Homo sapiens: one gene and its partner. The protein of the gene in region 2 interacts with the protein of the main gene of each other region in a pairwise test. Each region holds a gene or a part of one and is shown on either strand. Other genes may lie near its edges.

What was found.
Region 1: the proteins of TSC22D1 (region 2) and ASAH1 interact in a two-hybrid assay, tested with the Homo sapiens proteins (one large-scale study listed by BioGRID and IntAct).

What each region holds. Positions count from the first base shown.
Region 1 is NC_000008.11:18,066,941-18,070,665, reverse strand, and holds part of ASAH1 (acid ceramidase isoform a preproprotein), read left to right. Parts: intron 1-787; coding exon 788-874; intron 875-3,367; coding exon 3,368-3,446; intron 3,447-3,725. UniProt on the Homo sapiens protein: Lysosomal ceramidase that hydrolyzes sphingolipid ceramides into sphingosine and free fatty acids at acidic pH.
Region 2 is NC_000013.11:44,433,331-44,436,830, forward strand, and holds part of TSC22D1 (TSC22 domain family protein 1), read right to left. Parts: exon of another isoform or gene 3,299-3,500; coding exon of another isoform or gene 3,174-3,298; intron 2,766-3,173; coding exon 2,714-2,765; intron 1,554-2,713; coding exon 1,296-1,553; 3' UTR 685-1,295; coding exon of another isoform or gene 635-684; 3' UTR 1-634. UniProt on the Homo sapiens protein: Transcriptional repressor. Acts on the C-type natriuretic peptide (CNP) promoter. Acts to promote CASP3-mediated apoptosis.

The DNA of each region.
Region 1 (3,725 bases), on a different chromosome or scaffold from region 2:
CTCCCTTCATGTAAATAATTAAGAATCAAATTCACTTTAAAGATAAAATTAGACTTACTGTATTAATGTATTAATCGAGGCCAGGCACGGTGGCTCATGCCTGTAATCAATCCCAGTACTTTGGGAGGCTGAGGCAGGCGGATCACCTGAGATCAGAAGTTCAAGACCAGCCTGGCCAACATGGTGAAACCCTGTCTCTATTAAAAATACAAAAATTAGGCCAGGCGCGGTGGCTCATGCCTGTAATCCCAGCACTTTGGGAGGCCGAGGCGGGTGGATCACGAGGTCAGGAGTTCGAGACCAGCCTGGCCAAGATGGTGAAACCCCGTCTCTACTAAAAATACAAAAATTAGCCAGGCATGGTGGTGCATGCCTGTAGTCCCAGCTACTTGGGAGGCTGAGGCAAGAGAATCGCTTGAACCCGGGAGGCAGAGGTTGCGGTGAGCAGAGATCGTGCCATTGCACTCCGGCCTGGGCGACAAGAGCAAAACTCCGTCTTAAAAAAAAAAATACAAAAATTAGCTGGGAATGGTGATGCACACTTGTAATCTCAGCTACTTGGGAGGCTGAGGCAGGAGAATCGCTTGAACCTGGGAGGCAGAGATTGCAGTGAGCCGAGATGGTGCTACTGCACTCCAGCCTGGGTGACAGAGCGAGATGCTGTTTTAAAAAATATATATATAAATTGTCAAATAGCACTCTCTTTTAGCTACATATGGGTAAGCCAAAAGGTAATCTTGACAGCATTTCATTATGTCTTTTAGTAAGCATTTTATTTATTTTTCAGCTAAAGGTTATAGTGAATTCTCTGAAGAATATGATAAATACATTCGTGCCAAGTGGAAAAATTATGCAGGTGGTGGATGAAAAATTGGTAAGAGATATTATTTCTCACAATAAATGTTAAGCACATAGAAAATGCGCTGTTATTTATTTAAAGGCATAATTCAGCAACCTCTTCGCAGGGACTTGGGCAAATCTGCATGAATCTAGCTCACTGTCAGAACTTCAGAGGGACTTAAATTTGGGGAATTGGTAATATTAGGGTTACAGCATAGCAAATTATGGTTTCGTAAAAGGGGATGGGACTACATTACGACATTGGGCAAATAACCATATTTCATCTGGGAGTGTGGTATTTCCTTCCCTTTATGTAGTGAGTTCACTATTGAAGACTTGGTTTTTTTTCTTAAGTGTCTCAGGGACATCCAGAGATTTTTTTTTTGTAGATATGAGCAAATGACATACTCAGCCTGGCCCCTTATTCTGTAGAGTTCCTCAGTAGCTCTGACCCTGAAACTCATTTGGGCTGAGTGTTTCTGTGCAATCACCAAACCATTTCATTTTCATCCTCATCATGCAGGAAGACTCCATTTCTCAGCCCCGTTTTTGTTGACGCAGAACCAATGAAACACCTAGGGCCTGGCCCCTAGAACTGTTAAAGGGATCCTCATTGCTCTTGATGGCAGATTTTGGGCATTAATGACATTTGGGGTTGGGCAGCTTTTTTTTTTTTTTTTTTTTTGAGACCTCATCTCACTCTGTAGCCCAGGCTGGAGTGCACTGGCATGATCATAGCTCACAGCTGCCTTGATCTCCCAGGCTCAAGGGATCCTTCTGCCTCAGCCTCCTGAGTAGCTGGGACTACAGTCACGTGCCGCCACACCCAGCTACTTTTCTGAATTTTTAGTAGAGACGGAGGCTTGCTGTGTCACCCAGGCTGGTCTCCCAACTCCTGGGCTCAGGCGATCTTCCCGCCTCAACCTCCCAAAGTGTTCTCCCAAAGTGTTGGGATCGTAGGTGTGAACCGCCATGCCCGGCCTGGGTTGGATATTTCTTTGTCGTGGGCTTGTCTACATTCCAGGATGCCCGGCCTGGGGTGGGTGTCTCTTTTTTGTGGGGCTGTCATGTGCATTGCAGGATGTTTAGCAGCTCAGGATGCCCGGCCTGGGGTGGGTGTCTCTTTTTTGTGGGGCTGTCATGTGCATTGCAGGATGTTTAGCAGTGTCCCTGGCCCTTACCCACTGGATGCTGGTAACACCCCCTCAGTTGTGACAACCAAAAATGTCCTTAGATGTTACCAAATCTCCCGTGGTCGAGAATCATTGCCCTAGCGGCTGAGTGCTGTGGCCACATCCTCCCTATGACACTTGTACCTGCCAAGCACCAAACCCATTATCCCTCACGTGCATGCTCTCGGAGCTTTTGTTTCAGGCTATCCTTTATGTTCATACTTACCGGACTTCCTCAAAACAAAAAAATGCTGGCAGGAGCAAAAGAGGATGAGGCCCCCACGTTCCCCGTATGCCTTAATCTCCCCTCTACTCTGAATGTTATCAGGGAGGGCAACATTGCAGAGAGTTTTTGTGCCACGCCTTGGAATCGGACAATACTGGGTTTTAAGGCTGGATCAGTCACATACTAGCCTTGTGTCCTAGGGAAAGTTTCTTAACCTATGAAACCTCAGTTTTCTCATCAGGGAGAATAATAATTACTAATATATATTTCATATGGTGGTTGTAAGGGTTAAATGACATACTGTGTATAAAGCATAGTGCTTGGATGTAATAAGTGTTTAATAAATACCCATTACGTCACATTTGTTTGTTAAATGGCTGGAACATTCCACTTGGGGAATGCTTTGAGTTCCTAGGGAGAAAAAAAATATGTTTAGGTGACATTACATGTAATTACCAAGTTGGTTAAAAAAGTGAGATTCGTGAATTTTAAGCAGATTATCTCAGCAAAAGGCCGTGAACTTAAGTTGTGATCTGGATGTTAGTAGTTGCCATTGAGAATAAATATATGATGTCCACCACTGAATTTGCTCAATGTCTCTGGTTTGCTAAAAGAATGCAGTTACTTCATCTTAGCTGAAGATCAGCCATTAACCATGACACAGGGCTATGGATAGAATAGTGCAGGTTTATCTCTGTGAGTGTGGGAAGGAAATGGTAAGAACGGTATATGCCAGTGGCTAGAGGGTGAATTCGTGCAGAGAGATAAGGAGTGCTTGTTATGATGTTTTTGTGGTGTGGGTCAGGTTAGGTCATCCAAGTGGAATTACTCTCGTTCCTGCCTTCTCTGGAGAATGATGGAAAAATAAGGCAGGAAAAACAATCTGAGAATCTGGTCTCTGTATAGGGGCCCAATATTCAGTATTACATAGAATCTTTTTATAACTACATGATGTAAAAATGCTTTAAAAAATAATTCCTATCACTTATTATGATAGCAGTATCTAGAAAAAATTATATGTCCAAGAACTAGATTTCAAAGCATGCTTTTATTATATTTGTTTATATTATATTATATATTTTTTATTGTTATTATGTTAAATGCTTTTATTAATATATTTGTTTTCCAGCCTGGCCTACTTGGCAACTTTCCTGGCCCTTTTGAAGAGGAAATGAAGGGTATTGCCGCTGTTACTGATATACCTTTAGGTAAAGTTCACTTAGAAGCTTTAAAAAAAAAAGTAATTAAATTCTTTTACAAGTTTCCATTGAGGTGTGATATACATACAGCACAGGTGCTGTATGTCTTAGATATACAGCACAGGTGCACAGGTCTTAGATATACAGCTCAGTGAAGCTTCAGAAATGCATGCATGCATGTAGCCATGACTCAGATCAAGATACGGAAGAGCCCAGCACTCCACGATGCTCCATCATGCCCCTTTGCAGAAAATACTGCCTCCTCCAGTAAACACTATTCTGATGTCA
Region 2 (3,500 bases):
GTCTCTTCTCTTACCTGCTGAACAACTCAATGTGTCAATTTCCTTTTACTTCATGCAGTCAAATCACGCCCCTACTTTTCCAATCATTCCACTGCCCTTCAGGATTTTACTAGTCAAATTGTTAACTTTACCTGGAAACAGTTGTGGAAATGACTGCCATTATGTTAACAGGGTCATATGAAAAACACTTGTTTATCAACATTTATATGCTTTATTGAAAGTTGACAAGTGCAACAGTTAAATACAGTGACACCTTACAATTGTGTAGAGAACATGCACAGAAACATATGCATATAACTACTATACAGGTGATATGCAGAAACCCCTACTGGGAAATCCATTTCATTAGTTAGAACTGAGCATTTTTCAAAGTATTCAACCAGCTCAATTGAAAGACTTCAGTGAACAAGGATTTACTTCAGCGTATTCAGCAGCTAGATTTCAGATTACACAAAGTGAGTAACTGTGCCAAATTCTTAAAATTTCTTTAGGTGTGGTTTTTGTCATGTAGCAGTTTTTATGTAGATCTATATATAAAAGTCCACACCTCCTCAGACAGCCAATGAAACAACTAAATTTCAATCTGTACAACCTAAATAGTAGTTACAGTCCTCTATTGTACAAAATAGTTACACTACATACACAAATATACAATAAGCAAAACAACCTTCATGGTAAGATAGCCTAGGTCCCAGCTACCTGTCACCATTTTGTCACTCTCATAGTTTTGTGTCATCCATTGTTTGAGAAGAAAGAGGCACAGTACTATTGTTTTTTATGAATTTTGGTGACAGTTGTCAAATTTGTACAGTGAACTCTGTTCCCCCTCATTTTAGTCTTTTTACCCTCCTTTCAAGTTCCTCCTGGGGGGAGGAGAGGAGAGAGGCGAGTCCAGTGAGGAGCTCCATCGCTTCACAACCCCATGTAGGACACTAAGCGCAAGCAGGAGAGAGAACCCTTGGAAGTGAGGGGTAGGGAGCCGGAAGGGATGGAAAGGCACACAGCTCCTGAGCATGAATTAAACCATTTCTCAGATATCTGCCAAGCTGCATGAGGTCCCGGTATATCCATGCTAATTCTCGGATTAACCTTTAATTCACCCAACTAAGAAATTTCTCCAAGCCATAAGCATATGAGTGTTTAATACTGGAAAAGAGATAATGGCATATGTCAGTCTCACGTCTCTTTCGCAGCGAGCAATGAAATGGGTGACTGTGGAGGCAGATTCTCCCTAGCACATCTTCTCCGTCTGTTCAGTTCACACGCAGCAGCCAGTTCTGCGGGGGCATAGGCAGCTATGCGGTTGGTCCTGAGCCCTGCGATGCTGGCTGGGCGGGGGGCTGTGTGGTGCCCTGTGGCTGGGTGGTGGCAGGGGGGGAGCCAGTCTGCAGCTGGGCCTGAAACTGGGCAAGCTGCTCAGGACTGGCCAGTGTCTTCAGCAGATTGTTCTCCTGCTCCAGCTGGGAATTTTTCTCTATTAGTTCTTTGATTTGCTCTTTGAGGACCTCCACTTCTTCTCTGACCGCATACATCAAATGGCTTTTCACTAGATCCTGGAAAGAAGACAGAAAAGGTTTAACTCATTATTTGGTATTTTCTGGACTCTTTTGAGTTTCCAAGACATTATTTTACATGGATCTCCCTAACTATTTACATATTCCACCTTTAAAGTTGGTTCAATGACACTTGGGGAAATCTGAATACAAACATGACTGTACAATACTTGAGTTTAACGTATAAATGATCAAGCTTTGTAAAAGTCTGTGCTTCTCTGCAGACGTTGGCCAGAAACGCCCAAGTAAGGCTTCCTGAGACTGGGCCAGAGCCGGGCGCTGGGTCCCCGACTGAGACCAGCAGCGGGGACGTCCAAGCCACAGCGCGCCCACCGCGTCCCCGCCCCCAGGCCCCGCCCCGCGCTCGCCCGGAGCCGCCTCCTTCAGCACCGGCTGCAGCCAGTTCCTACCGAACATGTTGCCGCATTTTCTTCCCTCCACCCCGCCCCCCTCTTTTCGTGATTAAGCTGACATCACAGAAACCTGGGCAGACGTCGCAGCCAATGGGAGCCCGAGTTATTTATAGCTCCGAATTAAAGGTTCAGAGTTTGCCTAGCAACAGTGGGCAGAGAATCCCGTGAGAAGAGCCACAGGCGCTGCTCCAATAACAAAGAACGGCCAAGGCGGAAATAAAAAATAGGAGAAATCCAGGCGCAGGCTAAGAAAACAAAACTTTTTCTCTGATTCTTCTTCATTGTGAAGGAGCCCGCGCCACCGGGGACCCGTTTGTGCACCGTCTAGAAGACCCTTATCCAGGATCCCGACTTCTGGGGCCCTCCCCACCTCCCGGCTCCCTAGTAAAATATTAGGATTCCTAGTAAAGCCACATCGCTAAAGGTGTGCTCACGACCAGCCGAAGGAGATAGTTGGCCAGCGCTTCCCTAATAAATCCCCAGCAAAAAGGGTCACCGTGAGAAAATCCCGTCGTGTGAAACCAGTCCGGGGAAGAAGACCATTTAATACCCGCAGGGCCCCTTTCTCCCTCCACGGCTGCCGTGGTAGGTGGCTCCACGCTGGCCGAATGGAGACAGCGCCGGCATTTCTACGCGCATCAAGAGCAATCATCATCATCTGAACTTAGGGATGCACTGGTTCCACAAAACATCTTATTTTTGTGCTGTGCCCACATTTAGTATAAATGATTTTTCATCAGTACATACCATAGCTTGCTCGATTTTGTTGTCAATAGCTACCACACTTGCACCAGAGGAGCTGAAAAAGAGGAGGGAAAAAGGTCATCGATAAATGGAATTTATCTTAAGCTTCCAAGATAAAAAGGATCTCCCAATTTTGTGATATTGCTAGCATCATATTTTGAATGTTATTTAACACTATGTAATGTATCACCCTCCAGAAAATGCCAGCCCCTCTCTTACTAACGAATATCCAGGCATCTCCCTATTTTAGTAAGCCACAAAGGACTAAATTACATAATGTGGGGAAAGCCTGTTCTCTGGCCAGACTTGCAAAAATAAGGTTTTTTAACATTTCGAAAAACAACATCCATGTCACCATAATCTCTCAGCAATGGACAAAGGAATTCGCCTGGCTATCTTTCACCTGTATTATTATAAGTATCCCACGAATAAATTTAAAGAAACTATCTTAGCCGACATTTACCTATTATCAAGTCTCACAGAAGCGTTTTCAGTCCCCAGCAAGGATGACAAGAAAGAAATTGAAAAATGTCTCAGTTGGTAAACTCCTAGATCCATCGCCACTGGTCTACACCATTGGGATTTCATGCAATTGCAGCCAAAAACACCCTCGTGGAAAAAAAGAGGGAACACCAGCAGCCTTGTATAAGCTAGATAAAATCTTCTGGCTTTCCGCAGCCCAGGGAGAAACAGAAAACGGCAGCCCTAATTTAAAGAAACCCAGCTTCTAGGGCTTGATGATCCCAGGCAGATGCGGATCCCAGTGCCGTGAAGAGGCGCTTCCCAGATC